5 linked regions of the Homo sapiens genome follow. The protein of the gene in region 4 purifies or fractionates together with the protein of the main gene of each other region. This does not show direct contact. Each region holds a gene or a part of one and is shown on either strand. Other genes may lie near its edges.

What was found.
Region 1: the proteins of SLC16A12 (region 4) and DNAJC16 purify together in Homo sapiens (affinity purification with mass spectrometry; one large-scale study listed by BioGRID and IntAct). This does not show direct contact.
Region 2: the proteins of SLC16A12 (region 4) and MAIP1 purify together in Homo sapiens (affinity purification with mass spectrometry; one large-scale study listed by BioGRID and IntAct). This does not show direct contact.
Region 3: the proteins of SLC16A12 (region 4) and MFN2 purify together in Homo sapiens (affinity purification with mass spectrometry; one large-scale study listed by BioGRID and IntAct). This does not show direct contact.
Region 5: the proteins of SLC16A12 (region 4) and UGT8 purify together in Homo sapiens (affinity purification with mass spectrometry; one large-scale study listed by BioGRID and IntAct). This does not show direct contact.

The regions. Positions count from the first base shown.
Region 1 is NC_000001.11:15,533,345-15,536,863, forward strand, and holds part of DNAJC16 (dnaJ homolog subfamily C member 16 isoform 1 precursor), read left to right. Parts: intron 1-892; coding exon 893-959; intron 960-3,130; coding exon 3,131-3,470; intron 3,471-3,519. UniProt on the Homo sapiens protein: Plays an important role in regulating the size of autophagosomes during the formation process.
Region 2 is NC_000002.12:199,961,583-199,964,619, reverse strand, and holds the end of MAIP1 (m-AAA protease-interacting protein 1, mitochondrial isoform 1 precursor), read right to left. Parts: intron 2,840-3,037; coding exon 2,692-2,839; intron 2,655-2,691; exon of another isoform or gene 2,513-2,654; intron 888-2,512; coding exon 809-887; 3' UTR 503-808; downstream 1-502. UniProt on the Homo sapiens protein: Promotes sorting of SMDT1/EMRE in mitochondria by ensuring its maturation.
Region 3 is NC_000001.11:11,979,197-11,983,246, reverse strand, and holds the start of MFN2 (mitofusin-2), read right to left. Parts: upstream 2,804-4,050; 5' UTR 2,763-2,803; intron 1,438-2,762; exon of another isoform or gene 1,394-1,437; intron 1,278-1,393; 5' UTR 1,133-1,277; intron 725-1,132; exon of another isoform or gene 657-724; intron 1-656. UniProt on the Homo sapiens protein: Mitochondrial outer membrane GTPase that mediates mitochondrial clustering and fusion. Mitochondria are highly dynamic organelles, and their morphology is determined by the equilibrium between mitochondrial fusion and fission events.
Region 4 is NC_000010.11:89,525,588-89,529,106, reverse strand, and holds part of SLC16A12 (monocarboxylate transporter 12), read left to right. Parts: intron 1-3,519. UniProt on the Homo sapiens protein: Functions as a transporter for creatine and as well for its precursor guanidinoacetate. Transport of creatine and GAA is independent of resting membrane potential and extracellular Na(+), Cl(-), or pH.
Region 5 is NC_000004.12:114,622,800-114,626,318, reverse strand, and holds part of UGT8 (2-hydroxyacylsphingosine 1-beta-galactosyltransferase precursor), read right to left. Parts: exon of another isoform or gene 3,441-3,519; 5' UTR 3,439-3,440; coding exon 2,617-3,438; intron 1-2,616. UniProt on the Homo sapiens protein: Catalyzes the transfer of galactose to ceramide, a key enzymatic step in the biosynthesis of galactocerebrosides, which are abundant sphingolipids of the myelin membrane of the central nervous system and peripheral nervous system.

The sequences.
Region 1 (3,519 bases), on a different chromosome or scaffold from region 4:
GGCCGGGCGTGGTGGCTCACGCCTGTATTCCCAACACTTTTGGAGGCCGAGACAGGTGGATCATTTGAGGTCAGGAGTTTGAGACCAGCCCAGCCAACATGGTGAAACCCCATCTCTACTAAAAATACAAAAATTAGCCGGGTGATAGTGGCGCAGGCCTGTAATCCCAGCTACTCGGGAGGCTGAGGCAAGAGAATCGCTTGAGCCTGGGAGGCAGAGGTTGCAGTGCGCCAAGATTGTACCACTGCATTCCAGTCTGGGCAACAGAGTGAGACCCTGTCTCAAAAAAAACAAAAAAACAAAAAAAACAGTGGCCTTGAAATCTTTATCCAGGTAAAAAGCAATCGTAATAATAACGAAAAATGTTCTAATTTGAAAGTCAGGCACAAGTGCAGTTTGAAACCTGATTGTTACTAAATGAATTTAGTCTATCCTAAAAGCTATTTCTCATGTCTACCTGTGTTATCAGAAGAAACAACAGCATTCTAGCATCCTGATATCATTCTAGCATTGGGATGAAACGTTGCCATCCTAGGAGAAGACATGGGTTCTTATGGATAAACGACTTAGCCTTCAGCCAGCTTTAGCAGTGTTTGGGAGCAGTGTACAGACATGCACCATTTCCCACCTTCCTCTGTGAAATGCTGCAGTATTATATGGTGCTTTGAAAACATGCCCTGCTGGAGTGCTTTGGGAAAAAATAGCCTGTTTCAAAGTTTCATTTATTATAGTCATGTAAAACAACTGATTGCCTCTATCATTTATTTTAAGAAACTTTCCTAACAAAATAGCCCTCCGTCTGCCTCTGTAGTGAACTCTGTGGACAAGGACATTAAATGACTGTGCATTAAAAGTTACATCCTTTCTCACCGCCTGCCTGTTTGTGTTTCAGGCATCCTGACAAAAACAAAGATCCTGGAGCAGAAGACAAGTTCATTCAAATCAGTAAGGCTTACGAGGTATCGTGTCCAGCTTTGTGATGCATCCATTAGCTCTTACAAAATATGCCTTAGGAGGTGATGAGTTTTGTAAAGTTGTCAGAAAGGTCATGTTCCCCATGCCCTTGATGCAGTTTCTAGATTATAATAGAGAGAACAGGCTGGATGCGGTGGCTCATGCCTGTAATCCCAGCACTTTGGGAGGCCGAGGTGGGTGGATCACGAGGTCAGGAGTTCGAGACCAGCCTGACCAACATGCTGAAACCCTGTCTTTACTAAAAATACAAAAAAAATTCGCCGGGCGTGGTGGCACGTGCCTGTAATCCCAGCTACTCAGGAGGCTTAGGCAGGAGAATTGCTTGAACCCGGGAGTGGGAGGTTGCAGTGAGCAGAGATCGAGGCCTGGGTAACAGAGGGAGACCGTCTCAAAAAATAAAATAAAATAAAAAATAATAGAACATATTTGGCCACATCCAGTATATTGGAACAAGTGCCTGAACACTTCAGCTCTTGGAAAAACTGGCCTATTTTAAAGGCTTTAACTAGAATTGTAGAATTACCCTGAGTATGTCTGTATGTGTCACTATTGCCTTCTTAGAAATATGCATTAAAGAATCACATACCAAATCGCCTATATTTATTAAAGTGGCACGAGGTAACAAATACATTTAAACACAAGATTTTCAGTAATTTTCCAGTATGTCAGCTCAAGTAGATTGGTCTGGAATATGCATCAAAGAGAATTCAGTGGCTTTCTGATTTGTATAGGGAATGCCCTTCAGCAGACAGTGCTTAGCTCATAGAATAACACGTCATCATTCTAAAACAGATTCCTGAATTTTAGACTTCAAAGTTATTTTGTAAAACAAAGTAAATTAACAGACAAGGCACTAGACTATAGCTATTTGGTGTTCATAGCTTTTCTTATCTTGGTTTGAATTGGTCCAACTCACCAGGTATGACCAGGTCAATTTTCTTGTCATTGAGCCCTGGTGATCAACATTATGTTATTTTATTTGTTTTGCTGAAGTGTTTAATGTTGTGGTAGTTTGAAATCTTTAATGCCAAGATGAGCATGAGTACCTAAACTGAAATATTTTAGTCTTGAATGTTCTTTAATGTTTCTCTAGTGAAAGAAGAGTTTCTCATTCTTTTGAATGACTGCATTTAGAATATCTAATCGGCTGGACCCAGTGGCTGCTCACGCCCTGTAATCCCAGCACTTGGGGAGGCTGAGGCATGCAGATCGCTTAAGCTGAGGAATTCAGGACCAGCCTAGACAACATGGTGAAAAATACAAAAATTAGCCAGGCATGGTGGCATGTGCTGATGGTCCTAGCTACTCAGGAGGCTGAGATGGAAGGTTGACCCTGAGAGATGGAGGCTGCAGTGAGCTGTGATCACGCCACTTCACTCCAGCCTGGGTGACAGAGTGAGACTCTATCTCGAAAAGAAAAAGAATATCTAATTATGTCATAATCTTTTTTCTTTTTTCTTAAGAGACAGTCTGTCTCTGTCACCCAGGCTGGAGTACAGTGATGCGATCACAGCTCACTGCAGCCTTCAACTACTGGGCTCAAGCAATCTCCCACTCACCTCACCCTCCCAAGTAGCTAGGACTATAGGCACGCACCACCATGCCTGGCCGATTTTTTTTTTTCTTTTTGTAGCAAAGTCATGCTATGTGGTCCAGGCTGGTCTTGAACTCCTGGCTTCAAGGGATCCTCCAAACCTTGGCCTCACATAATCGTGTCATAATTTTTACATTTCTTTTCTTTTCTTTTCTTTTCTTTTTTTTTTTTTTTTTTGAGACGGAGTTTCGCTCTTGTTGCCTAGGCTGGAGTGCAGTGGCACCATCTCGGCTCACCTCAACCTCCGCCTCCTGGGTTCAAGCAATTCTCCTACCTCAGCCTCCCGAGTAGCTGGGATTACAGGCATGCGCCACCACTCCCGGCTGATTTGATTTTTTGTATTTTTAGTAGAGACGGGGTTTCTCCATGTTGGTCAGGCTGATCTCAAACTCCCGACCTCAAGTGATCCACCCGCCTCAGCCTCCCAAAGTGCTGGGATTACAGGTGTGAGCCACCACGACTGGCTGCATTTATTTTCTTCCTATGTCTTTCAAGCTGCTTACAAAAAAGTCTTTTGGATGAACCTTTTGTTGTTGTTTAGATTTTTTTCTTCCTTTATAGATTCTTTCAAATGAAGAAAAGAGATCAAATTATGATCAATATGGAGACGCTGGAGAGAACCAGGGCTACCAGAAGCAGCAACAGCAGCGAGAGTATCGCTTCCGCCATTTCCATGAAAATTTTTATTTTGATGAATCCTTTTTTCACTTCCCTTTTAATTCTGAACGGCGGGACTCAATTGACGAAAAGTATTTATTGCACTTTTCACATTATGTGAATGAAGTGGTTCCAGATAGCTTCAAGAAACCCTACCTCATCAAGATCACCTCCGATTGGTGCTTTAGCTGCATTCATATCGAGCCTGTGTGGAAAGAAGTCATTCAAGAACTGGAAGAATTGGGTAAGATAATTTTATTCACTGAAAGATATTTATATAGATGACTTTTTTT
Region 2 (3,037 bases), on a different chromosome or scaffold from region 4:
CCTGTAGTCCCAGCTACAAGGGAGGCTGAGGCAGGAGAATTGCTTCAACCCAGGAGGTGGAGGTTGCAGTGAACTGAGATCATACCACTATACTCCAGCCTGGGCAACAGAGGGAGACTCCGTCAAAAAAAAAAGTGTAAATGTATTAGCCACAAATAAAATATTTAAGAACTATTAATTTAGAAATGTGTAAGTAGGCTGGGTGCAGTGGCTCATGCCTATAATCCTAGCTCTTTGGGAGGCCGAGGCAGAACCACTTGAGGAGTTCAAGACCAGCTGGGCAACATAGTGAAATCTCTATAAAAATTTTTTAAAATTAGCCAGCCATGCTGGTGGATGCCTGTAGTCCCAGCTACTCTGAAGGCTGAGGCAGGGGGATCGCTCAAGCCCAGGAGCTCGACGTTACAGTGAACTATGATCATGCCACTGGACTTCATCCAGGGAGACAGAGCAAGACCCTGTTTCTCAAACAATTTAAAAAATATATAAAGAAATTTGTAAGTAGTTTTTTCAATACCTTCTTTATTATGTCTATAAAATTATATGTAGCATTGGAAATGTTATTGAATATGACACCAACAACGTGCTATTGTATTTTTTAAATTTTGACTTCTTTTAAAGAAGGTGATAACAATCTGTGGAAAATGCTTTTACTGTATCATGCCAATATACTGCAAGGAGTATTTCAAAATAATATAAAAGTAATTCACAGACTTAGATTAAGTGAAGATCAAATGACCCCAAAATTTTTCTTCCTTAGTTTTTCACAGCAACTGCTAAAGTCCATAAGCTGATTTTTCCAAGAAAATTATTCTAATAATTTTGAGTGTTCAATCCGTGCAATGGTCCAGTCAGGCTTTACTCCTTGTGTGAACTCCCTCTGAAACCTAGGAAAGACATTGCAAATAATGTAAATCTTACATCAGTCCAAGTATGTGTTAGATAACTATGTAATTTGCAAGTGTATATTTAGAAGAATTTTTGGCAACAAGATAATGGTTAATATTAAATCAAAATCAAAACAAAAAAAAGTTTAACCTACCCATTCAATCACAATAAATATACCCACAAAATTGAAGTACATTCTCAAGTAATGTAAGTATTTTTAATGGACTAATCTATATTCAACATCTACCAGCCCCTAAGAGAAACTTGGATATATGTGTTATATAAATAACACATATAGCTAGTATGTGTTAAATACTAGCTATAACACATGCCTAATATGAGGACAGATAAACTGGACTCTGGTGATGCAAACAGCACTTTAAATACATAACCTAGGATACAGGCAAAAAGCTATTTTTCAAATAGCACTGTTACCAATTTAGGAATAAATAGTGGAATTTAGTTTACATACATTAAATCAATCTTGAAAATAACAATGTTTATGAAGTACCCATAGTCTTAGTAAGAAACATCAGAAAAGATAAAGTTTAGTATTGACGACAGTGCTCTTTAAAAATTATTTCTTAACAGGCAATTCAGTAGATTTAAATTAAGTATTTAAATATATAGAATATTTTGGGTAATTACAAATAAAGCAAAATTTAAAAAAACACATTTCTTTTAAGAAGAGCAAAAAAAAAATGAGGATATAATTCTCTTTTACCTTAGTAAAACAGAATACATTTTATTTCTTAGGTCATTTTTGGGGTTTGTTATTTTGAAGCAGATTTGTGTAACTCTGGCAACATATTTTTTTAATAAATGTTAAATTATATCTTCACTGACTTGCTCCAGCAGTTCACTGTTCTAGATTTTATTCGCATAAAAATACAATATAATGTCTCTTTTACGTAACTTGCTAACTTCCTACTATACAGTATGTGCTTAAGGGCAGTATCCCTTCAACTTTGTATCTGAACCTCTACCAGAGCATGTGGGCACACAGATGACCAACAGATGTCTAGTGAATAAATTGTTCATGTACCAATTATGGCAGATTTTATTTTCCAAAAATGACCACAACCATATCTCCCCTCCCATGTGCTCTTCTGCTATGTGGCCTTGCTGGTTTTTGCCCCAAAAAATGGGGGAGTCTTTCTACACCCTTTAAACTATACAGATCCTTTGACTGCTTTGACAAGTAGACTATGGCAGAACTGATGTTCTAATTCTGGGCATAGCCCTTTACTGGTTTAGCAGCTTCCATTTTCTGCCTCCTAGAATTCAACCACTATATGAAAGATATGACTAGTCTGAAACTACCACAAGTCCAAGCCACAAAGAGTGGCCCTGGAGAATACAGAGTCATGCAGAAGCCAAGGAGTACCAAGGTGCCACCCATGCGAGTTAAGAAGTCACTGTGGAAATGAATCCTCCAGCTCCTGCCACTCGTGTTGATGCCAGGTGAAGCAGAGAAAACCCCCTAACTGAGCCTATCCAAAATTTCTGAGCAGTGAAATAGCAGGCAAAGTCAATGGCTGTTTGAAGCCAATGAATTTGGGGGTAGTTTGTTAAGCAGCAATAGACAGCTAAAACATCATTTAATTAAATTCAGCAACTTTACCTCTTTCTAATTTCTTAACTCTCCTGTTTCATATCCAGTGTGTCTTTCTGACCTTTTCTCTTCATAAATAACTTGTCAAATTTCAATTCTTTTCTTCCTAAAGATCTCTTAGTTTTCATACCTTCACACTACCTTCCATTTTCTGAAGAAAGGAAACAATGAAATCTGATTAAACTTACTCATAGCTTGCACTAAGAAGTTGTTTAGTTTCCACATTCTGATTCCCCAACTTAACCTGGAATACACTGGCTCCTCTTAAAGTTTCACTGGGGATGTTGGCACTGGTTAGATACCAAAAGCACATCAGGATGTTAACAAACTTCCTTCCTTAGAGAAAAAACATATACACACATACGAATACAAATCAAAATAATCTATCATCCATATAAACAAAATGAAATCAGAAATTGGCAGCAGTTATACAGTTGTTACAGGTCAAATTTTGTGCTTATTCTGATGTGACTTAAAATACTTGTATTGATACTATTTTATTTTTAGAAAATTGTCTTAGGGTTTATGGCATAC
Region 3 (4,050 bases), on a different chromosome or scaffold from region 4:
ACAAAAAATTAGCCAGGCATGGCAGCATGCACCTGTAGTACAGCTACTCGGGAGGCTGAGGCAGGAGGATAGTGTGAACCTGGGAGGCAGAGCTTGCAGTGAGCCAAGATCACGCCACTGCAAGATCGCGCCACTGCACTCCAGCCTGGGTGACAGAGCAAGACTCTGTCTCAAAAAAAACAAAAAACAAACAAACAAACAAAAAACACCATATGCTACCATTTTCCTCAGTGGAGCACGTGAGCACAGCAAAAGAGTTTGGGAAGGAAGCCTTGTTGTAAAGACACTAGTTTAACTGTGTTGAATTCAGCATTTCACAAATATAATCAATGAAAAAACCCTTCTGTGTAATAGCTTTTAAAATCCCGAGGATCACACTTTAGGGAAAAGCCCACTCTTTCTGGTACTCTCCTGCCCCTACCCCTAAAAAGTGCCAGGGCACAGTATTAATAAATATTAACCTAAGACCAGAAATGAACCCAGTTCTAAATGGAAACTGCTATTAGCCCTCCAAGGTGGTCAACAGCTTTGCCTCAACCTAGGCTATTCGTTGAGGAGTATTAGGTATCTTGGGTGTAGAGACAGCAGTAGCAAAATTCACTGCAAGGTGTGTTTGGATCCCAAGCACAGTCCCTGAATCCACACCACCTCCTTACCCAGTGTTATGTACAGCAACTCCTAGCAGGGAAAATAAAATGGATCCACGGATCGTCTGCTGGCACAACTGGAAAAGAGGAGAAGCTGAGAAATCGAAACAAAAAGAGTATACAGGGTAAAGGGGACAGAGCAGAGTCTTAAAAGAGCAGTGACAAGGAGCCAACCTGTGCTGGGCCGAGATGGGGAAGAGCCAGCACAGCAGAGACCAAATGAGGGAGACAGAGACTAACTCTTCAGGGAGCCCAAGAGATCCCAGCCACTTCTGAACTGTCAACTTTTAAACAGGCTCTCTAAGCAACCAGCGAAATCCTTCACGGAAGTAAAAGATACGGTAGTTTTTCAACACAAGTTAGAAAGCTGTGGCTCTATACAAAGAGGATGCCATTCAAGAGACTTGCCACCAGAGGTCCAGGAGAGCACACCCCTGTCCACTCAGCTCAAATCCAGGGTGCCAGAAGTCACAGCTACTACTTACTTTTTTGGATGGTGAGAGATCTTCACAGGGTAGGCATCATGGACATGGCTGAAGTCCAAAAGACAAAAAGATTCTGAGTTCTCTTCTGTCCTGTCTCAGGTTGAGGTTGGCTATTGATTGACTGTGTTGACTCCACCAGTCCTGACTTATTAGAAAAGAAAAGGGAGATGGATCCGGTGTCCAAAAAAAAAAAACACTGGTGTACAAAACATGTCTAATCAGGTTTCAAGCCAAACAAACTCATCCCTGAGGGAAGCTTACTCATTGAGGTATTGGGGAGTTGCGCTGGCATGTGAGGAAGTGCCCTGGGGAAAAAAACGCAGAGGTGTGGGACCAATCCTGACTGTGCACACGTATTCCGCCATGTGCGGGTTTGAGGCACCACGGAGGTCCCTGCAGGAGCCCTGGGAAAGGTACATCCAGAGAGGGGAGAAGAGGACAGAGCAAAACTAGGAACAAAACTGGGCTTGAGGACTGTGGAACAGCTGACTATTGAGGAACAGAAGAACTGACTGAAAGCCAATGTGTTCAGCTACTGTAAAGTATCTCACTTAATTCTCTATTCTGTGGGACAGAGGGCTGGAATACTTGAAGATTTGTCTAAGCTGGGATCTGAAATATTAGCTCCCTTTGACTCCAAAGCTCCTGGAGTGCAGCAGCGCGATCTCGGCTCAACCTCCGCCTCCCGGGTTCAAGCGATTCTCCTGCCTCAGCCTCCTGAGTAGATGGGATTACAGGCGTGTGCCAGCAAGCCCGGCTAGTTTTTGGTTTTAGCACAGACGGGGTTTCACCATGTTGGCCAGGCTGGTCTCCAACTCCTGACCTCAGGTGATCCGCCCGCCTCAGCCTCCCAAAGTGCTGGGATTACAGGTGTGATCCACTGCGACCGGCCTCCTTCCTTTTTTAACTACATTGAGCTGCCTTCCTCCCCCAAGCCCCAAACCTTGGGACACCAGAGGCGGATAACCAGAGCCCTTTTCTGGGTAGAAAAGAGATAACCAGAGCCCTTTTCTGGGTAGAAGAGAGAGAGATGATTGAGAATTTAAAGAGGGCAATGAAGGATTACGAGAGGGGGTAACGGGCAGTTCTGCCTTCGTGCGTCTTAACAGCTATTTATTCAACATTTTCTGTGTGCCTTCTCTGTGTGTGTCAGGCGCCACGTTAGAAATGGATAAGAAACAGTCCTGCCCTCCAGGGCCTTACAGTCCGGTGAGAAGTCATATAAGTAAACAGGGCTGAACGAGAAGGCAGTAACTGCCCAAAGTGGGGATGGCAGGGCGCTCCCGCGGTGAACGTGGACACCTATCAGGTGCTGAGTAAATGCTGGCAAAATGAAGACAGGATGAAAAATAGAGAAGGGGCAGGGGTAGAACATGGCCGTGAAGGGTGGAAAGGCGGGGGCGATGAGAAGCTACAGGGGACCCCACCGACCAGTCCCAGGTCCCGTGGCCCGCCCCCTCCTCTCAGGGCCGGGGAGGGCCCGGCGGCGAGGCCGGAGAGTGGGGACCCCGCTTGACTGCATCCCAGACCCCCGTGGCCCCAGAATCCCGTCGGCCCACGCCGAGCTGCTCAGGACTCGCCGGGCCGGGCCGGGCCAGTCCCCGCCACCCCGGCTTGCTCGCCCTCTCACCTTCACCTTCCCGGCCTCGCGGCGGCCATCACACTCACTACGTCACCAGCGAGCGCCACCCCAGGGGGAGGCGGGAGGAGGGAAGTGGATAAGCGCGTCACCAGTCGCCTCAGATTGCCCCTCGACCCGGGTGAGCTGGTGGACCCTGAGCCCAGCCGGCTCGCCCCGCCTACTCCTTACGCCTCTGCTGCCCCGCGACTCGGCGCTTCGAGCGGCGTCTCAGCGCGCCACTCCTCCGCGCGCCACTCCTCCGCCGGCGCGTCCCAAGCGGACGACGCAGAGGCTCGGACTCCCACTGCATCATGGGGGCTGTAGTTCCGGTGGGCGTCGGCCGGAGCTGGGGGGGCGGGGCAAAGCGGGGCGGAGCCTCAAGCTGTCAAGGGGCGAAAAACCAAGGGCGTGGAGTAGAGGTTCCCGCTTTTTCGCCGGTTGTCCTAGAGCCTGACCCTGGGGCCTCTGCCAGCTCTGGAATCCAGATTTGCATTCTGTAATCTTAGAGGAGTGTTCTCTAGAGGGCCAGGCCTAGGGTGAAGTGACTCATCGGGCAGACAGAAGCGAGCATGGGCCTGCTGCCCTTCAGTCGCCTTTGAGGAAAGAAGAGCAGCAACAACGGCGAATCAATGCCAGTGACTGAACTGCGTCTCTAACATCCACCGCTGTATTTAACGTCCACAGCAGTCCCAGGAGAGGGAGAGGAGAGGTTACCCAAGCTCACATGGTTACCCAGATCACCGGGCCCCAGTGATGCGGCAGACACTACTAGGAAACCGCAGCAAACAGATCCCTTGCAGGACTTGGCCTCCGCAGAGAAGGCTCCAAGCCTGAGCGCGCCAGAACAGTAGGCACTAGCCACGTGTGGCTCTCGAGTCCTGAGCCAGTGCAAACGGAGATGCGCTATAAGACTTAGGACAAAAAAGGCTGTTAAACTATCTCAATTTTTAGGAAAAAAAAATATCGACCGGGCGCGGTGGCTCAAGCCTGTAATTCCAGCATTTTAGGAGGGCGAGGCGGGTGCATCGGGAGTTCAAGACCAGCCTGGCCAACATGGTGAAACCCCGTCTGTACTAAAAATACAAAAATTAGCCAGGCATGATAGTGCACTCGGGAGGAAGAGGCAGGAGAATCGCTTGAACACGGGCGGTGGAGGTTGCAGTGAGCCGAGATCATGCCACTGCACTCCAGCCTGGGCAACAGAGACTCCGTCTCAAAAAAGAAAAAAAAAATCTATCTTTGAGCCAGAGTCTCACTCTCACTCAAGCTGGAGTGCAGTGGTGCAATCACGGCTCAC
Region 4 (3,519 bases):
AATCTCATAAGGGAGAACAGAATGCTGCTTCTTCAGGCAGTGATAGTTCAACCAGACAACTATCAAAAACCAGCCTTAATCATCATTATTAAATAGTTATGAATAGGGGTAGCCCAAACTCACAGGCATAAATGATATAAAAAATAAATGGTCTGTTCAGGTTGACACCTGACAACCTAGTATCCATAAATCAGTTGATTGAAGACTCTGTATCAATGGTTCTCAACCCCACCTACACATTAGAATCACCTGAGGAAGGAAAAAAACTGGTACCAATGTCCTACTCTGAAAAATTCTGATTCCGTAGGTCTGAGATACAGGGCTAGGGTATTGATAGTTTTTAAATCTCTCTGGTGAATCTCATGTACAGCCAGGGTTGAGAAACTATGGACATATGTAATAATAATTTTGTGCCTCTTTAGAAAAAAATTTTATTGAAACATAAAATTTCATGTGTGGTATATTCTTAACATATAATGGAAATTTTTTGTGTGTGCATTTTCTCTATAGAGGGCCCATTCATTATATGGAAAGCTTTTCCCAATGGTTGAATGAATGTTCAGTGATTTTTTTTCTTCTCTGTGGAATTCACTAGGCTTATGTGTATAAGATGTCAAAACAACCAAATCAACACAATTGATATAATTACTGTCAACCAATGAATTAATTAACCAACTATTTTCAAGTTTTTGATGATTGTGGTACCATATGGGTATTTTTGTTTAGGACAATAATTTGGCCTTTTACTCTACAACAATAATGTGTTTCCTCTAAAATACTTACAGATGTGTCCTTTATTATGTGTTTCTTTAAATTGATTGAGTTGTCAACCTTAATACTCAAACTTTCTCTGAAAACTTTCTGTTTTTATTCAATTGCATCAAATTAAATAAAAAGGGTTATCTTGGGACAGGGTCTCTCTTTGTCACCCAGGCTGGAGTGCAGTGGCCTTATCAGGGCCCACTGCAGCCTCGACCTCCCAGGCTCAAGCAATCCTCCCATCTCAACCTCCCAAGTTGCTAGGACTACAGGCATGAGCCACCATGCCTGGCCAGACTTTTATATAAGAAAGATATTATATAGGACTCTTACGTAAGAAAGATAGGAGTTTAAACCTTGCCCTATGTGACTTCAACAAAGTATGATTAATTTTAGAGCTTTCCTTGTCATTAGGATTTATTGTTTTTGAGAAAATGTGGTGAGGTGACTGATACAGATTCTGAAGATTTATCTAGTAGACTACTCCTACTTAGAATTCACCTCTTTTTTTCTTTTCTCTCTCTCTCTCTCTCTTTTTTTTTTTAAGAGATGGGGTCTCACTGTCACCCAGGCTGGAGTGCAGTGGTGCAATGATGGTTCATTGCAGCCTTGAACTACTAGGCTCAGGCAGTCCTGCTTCAGCCTCCAAAGTAGCTGGAACTACAGGTGGGCACCACCATGCCCAGATAAATAATTTTTTTTTTTTTTGTAGAAATGGAAATGGAGTCTTACTATGTTTTTCCAGGCTGGACTTAAACTCCTGAGCTCAAGCAATCCTCTCTCCTCAGCCTCCCAAAGTGCTGAGATTATAGATGTAAGCTACCATGCCAGCCCCTTATTTTTTTAGTTTTATTATTTTTTTTTTGAGGTGGAGTCTCACTCTTTCACCCAGACTGGAGTGCAATGGCATGATCTCGGCTTGCTGCAACCTCTGCCTCCTGGGTTCAAGCGATTCTCCTGCCTCAGCCTCCTGAGTAGCTGGGATTACAGGCACCTGCCACCACACCCGGCTAATTTTTGTATTTTTAGTAGAGACGGGGTTTCACCACGTTGGTCAGGCTGGTCTCAAACTTCTGACCTCAAGTGATCTGCCCACCTCGGCCTCCCAAAGTGCTGGGATTACAGGCATGAGCCACCACGCCCTACTCAGCCCCTTATTTTTTTTAATTTGTTCTTATTTGGTTTTAATGCTCATGGAGATTCTCACCCACTGTTACCAGTTAGCTTCCCCAAATTACACTTTAACTGTTGATTTTGTAATAAAAATAAATAAATTTTTATCCACGAATAAAAATCTTAATGGATTTTGGCCAGTAGATTTTAAACTGTATTTTGCAAATTCCTGGGAGTATCAGGGAGCACCTCTGGAGCTGTGTTACAGGGCATGAGGGCAATGGGTGGCAGACCGATGTCCAGCTTCCAGCTTTGGGCTCCTTTCTGGTGGCCCCTTCTGCTATCTGAGTAGGTGTTCTGTTCTTGATTTCTTAATGGATTTTGGCCAGTAGATTTTAAACTGTATTTTGCACATTCCTGGGAGTATCAGGGAGCACCTCTGGAGCTGTGTTACAGGGCATGAGGGCAATGGGTGGCGGACCGATGTCCAGCTTCCACCTTTGGGCTCCTTTCTGGTGGCCCCTTCTGCTATCTGAGCAGGTGTCCTGTGCTTGATTTCACATATTTGGTTTCCAAGTAAGATTTTATTTGAACAAAGGATTTCTTGGCCAAAACAAGTTTGTAAGTGATTGGGCCACATGTTTCTAAGTTTCTGCTTCCTGTTCCTTGCCAAATTTGTTTTATATTCTGGCAGCTCCTAATTGTTTCAAGCTACGACTGCGGATCTGTGTTGAAAAGCCTGGGAAATCTTCGGTCTTAATAACTTTATAACTTTGATGCCTGTGGGGAGAGATAACCAAGTAAGCAGTTAGATATTTACAGCAAGAACTATAGCTTGGGAGTTATCAGTATAGGGACTCAGTTCAAGTTATATGTCTCCCCAGGAGAGTGTTTCTAGAGAGGGGTGAGATGGGTCAAAGATCAAATTCTGGGGAATAGCTATGCTGGGCTAAGTGCCGTTCTCTGTATTCACGTTAACCAAATGTGCATTTTGGTTAATGAAGTTTGCATTTCATATTTTAATTTTATAATTCCCCCATGTACAGTTGTACATAACTGCCAAAAGAGTTGATGCATGGGTATATATGTGTGTGGGGGCGGGGGGTAGCATGATGGGGTCAGAGGACAGGGCTTGGAAACCAGCCAAGGATGCTTATCCTTTCTTTGAAAACCCTGCATCATGCACAAATCACTGGGGCCCCTTCTACATGCAGGTTGAAGTGCACAATGAGAGGATAAACTTGGGTGGTTACCTAGTGAATTTGGCAATTCAGACAGCTGTTGTGGCATTTTTTGACATAAAATTATTTGTTAAGAAATATCACGGTTTCTTACCTTAAAAAATCCAGACATTTCCCCCGTATCTTAGTTCTCCCTTGTGGAACTTGAATAGTGACTGCTAGGTTTTGGGTGTGATCCCATGGACGTTTAGGTCAAATCCCCACTCCACATGGGTCTGTAGCTAATTGTGTTTTATTGACACAGACTCCACCCTCAATGCCAGCCGGCTCTTTGGTAAATTTAGTCATGAGGAACACCTGGCAACAGCTACTAACTTAATTAAAAAATTCAAAAACACTCTTAGAAAAAGGCAGAGTACCTAGATAAAGAACAAATAAATACTCATAAATAAGATACTTGTTAAAA
Region 5 (3,519 bases), on a different chromosome or scaffold from region 4:
ACTGTCACAACAATGCCCTGTAAATAATACAGGCATTTGAGAAACTCATTAACTTTTAGAATGAAAAGGTACAGTTTATTATCTCAAATAAATCTACTAGAAAAATCTCAGTGGGAACATGTGTTCATAAGCATATAAAACCACACCAGAATAAGGAATACCTGAAAGAGTACTGCACATCATTCTTCAAAATACTCCCTGCTCAAAAACTATAAATAACATTCTGAAATGAAAACAGCCCTTCACAATGATAATCTAATAGACTTCCAATAATAATAATATACTTATCTATGTCCACATACTATATATAACACATGCACACATGCCATGTCTGTGCATGCAACCAAACTAACTGGCACAAAGCAAACTTTGTAAACAAAAAACGCATTTCAAAAGAACCACTACAAATAGCCCAGAGGAAAAAGAACTCCACAAAGAAAGTCAAGCCAGTGTCAAATGAGAAATTATGGCAAATTAAAGGATATTTTGAGTAATACCTTATGTCGAGCACCAAAAACCACTAAAAAGATGTTTTTCATGTAAAACAAAATAGTGACACTAGTAAGGACATCTGTGTGCAGAGGAATCCATGACAGAAAAAAATGCTTGGATGGTAGAAAAAAAATTATCACATGCTATGCATCTTTTTGAAAGGTAGAGTATTGAAAATAAAACATAAAATATTTTCCTACACTTATACTGTGTCATTCAAGTTGCTGCAACTCAAGACAAATATACAGCAGGAACTGGAAGGAAAGAAAAGGCAATCAGGACAGGACATTCCTTTTTTTTTTTTTTTTTTTTTTTTTAGACAGGGTCTCACTCTGACACCTAGGCTGGAGTGTAGTGGTGTGATCTCAGCTCACTGCGGCCTCGACCTCCTGAACTCAAGTGATCCTCCCACCTCAGCCTCCTGAGTAGCTGGGACTATAGACATGCATCACCATACCCAGCTAATTTTTATTTTTTGTAGAGACAAGGTTTCACTATGTTGTCCAGGCTGGTCTCGAACTCCTGGACTCAAGTGATCCTCCTGCCTTGGCCTCCCAAAGTGCTGGGATTACAGGCATGGGACACCGCGTCCAGCTCCTTTTCATCATATACTTCTTCTTCAATCAAGTGACTGAAGAAGAGAGACATCACCCAGATGAAAACCAAAGGGAGCTGGCAGAAGGGGAGTGTTCTAGCTCGGAAAAGATGATGACCTAGAGAGAACAAGGATGATTTGTGTAACATTTTAAATGACTCAGTTAAGGTAAAGACACACCTTGATTACCAAATCTTTTAGAAGCTACTTCTAAAATCTGATTTTAGCTACCTTTAGGAAGGTGACTCTGCCAGAGAAGATCTGAGGATTCAAAATGAGCTTGGATAAATTCAAGAATGGCTAAGATAAGCTGAGATTAATCCCTATCCTTTACAGTTGACGTCAGAGAGAACAAGTGTGCCCTCATGGCCTCCAGTGGCTGTATATATTTGAAATGCTGTGGGTGTACAGGCCATTTCTGTTTCCATGTTATATGAAATATATCGATATATTATTTATTAATTATAACTCTAATGGCCATATTAGAAAAGCCTACAGGTCGTATATTTCTAATCACCTTATTGCCTCACGACAAAATTCAGCCATGTGATTGTCCTCATCTATACGAGAAAATCTGGATTTACTCTTCATCAAGGCCCTGATAGAATTTTTAATATGTAGTACCAGAACTAGAAATCAACAATTTAGCAAAATTGTTTTGAGTGGCTATTTCCAGAGGTAGGATTAAAAGTAACTTGAATAAAGTCCTGCAACAAGCCCTACACTTCCTAGTAAATGGGATCTGATGTTGAGGTTAAATTGAGAGATTCAATCTGAGGTTAGAAAACTCACTACAACAATAGGTATGTGTATGGCTTCTGCTAATGTGGGATACCTAATAAAAAACAAGGATGGTGAACAGAATACCAAGGGATTTACTGTTGGCTCAATCAATAAAAAGAATTTAAGTTTCACATAGAGAACAGAGTTTCTTAAAGTGCCATTGATTCCATCATTGAAATGAAATTGCAATAGAGCATGCTTTCCTTAAAACCATTACATTTACTTACTAGCTTAAATTAACCAACTCCCTACTTTGATGGAAGTTACCACCTCACTTTCATTATTGGACATAAACTAGTGGTAATAACCTCCCAGAGAAGAACCTCTGTTCACTGACCTGAAGCTAAACATATATACCTGTTAATTGTGCTATTTGGGGCAGAACAGAGGGGATTCTGTGTGTAATTAAAGATAAAATCACTTATACTCATTAAAATTAACCATTTAACTATATTCTCCTCACATACTATAACTATTACTTAATCAGAAAACTACTTCCCAGGCAGTCTATTGACCATATGGCATAGTGGTCTTTTCAGTATTACAGAAATGCTCATTCAAAGCAGGAATGTTTCCCAGGGAAGTGGTGGACCCACATAAAGGGACTTTGGAGGCCCCATGTCCTAATCACCTTTTAGTGTACTGTATATATACAATATATATAAATAACAAATCATATCTCTTCCAAAAATCAAAATTGACTTTTACATTAAAAAAGAATTACCAAGGAATTCGGCAAACCTTACTTCTGGTAGTGGGCTGGCTGGTTTGGTTAGGATTCCTCCTACATAAACAACATTAGGCAGAGTGGGTCTTGGGAATTCCAGTGCTACGTCAGTACACAGCATCCACAGGCTGGACCCATGAACCAAATCATACATGGACTTCTCTGGCAGCAGGTTGTACTTCTGCATTATCCTTTCATATTTGGGAAGAACCAGAAAGCTGACCCCTAATCTGGAAATGAGGTAAACACCGGTATTTTTCATCCTTTGCAGCAAGTTCATGCGGTCTGTGAGGAGTGAGTTAAACTCTGGGACGTATGCTAATGGAGCAGGAGCACCCACTTCAGCAGGATACCAAAGGCCAGTTGAAAATACAGCATATTTAACCCCTAAAAGATGAGCTATCACAAATCCACACATATCATTAGGGTCCACCAGCAGCAGGTCAAATTTTTCTTTCTTCAGACCCTGGATCAGGGCATGGTTGCCAACCATCAGGTCACAGTTCTTAGTATAGTGATCCAGTATGTCAAACAGTTCGATTGCTGTCAATCTCCCAGAGAAAATATTCCGCATCTTGGACTGTAGGAAAGCATCTGAGGTGGTACTGTTAAAGATCCCTGGGTAGCGCTGGAGGCTGTAATGATTAGATGGGGCGATGTCTCTGCCTTCAGAGAGGAGGAACACTGTATGGTGGCCTCTCTCGTGCAAGGCTGAGGCTAGCGTCTTGAAAATGTACATATGGCTTTCAAACATAATTGGCGGCACGATGATGATTTTGGCAGCCTTCGCTATCCCAACAGCACTCCACAGGAGAATGAAATATGGAGTGTAAGACTTCATAGCTGTAATAACAACCAGAAAACAACTTAAAACAAAATACAATGCTCACCATTCAAAACAAGCAATCACAAAGCATTTTTC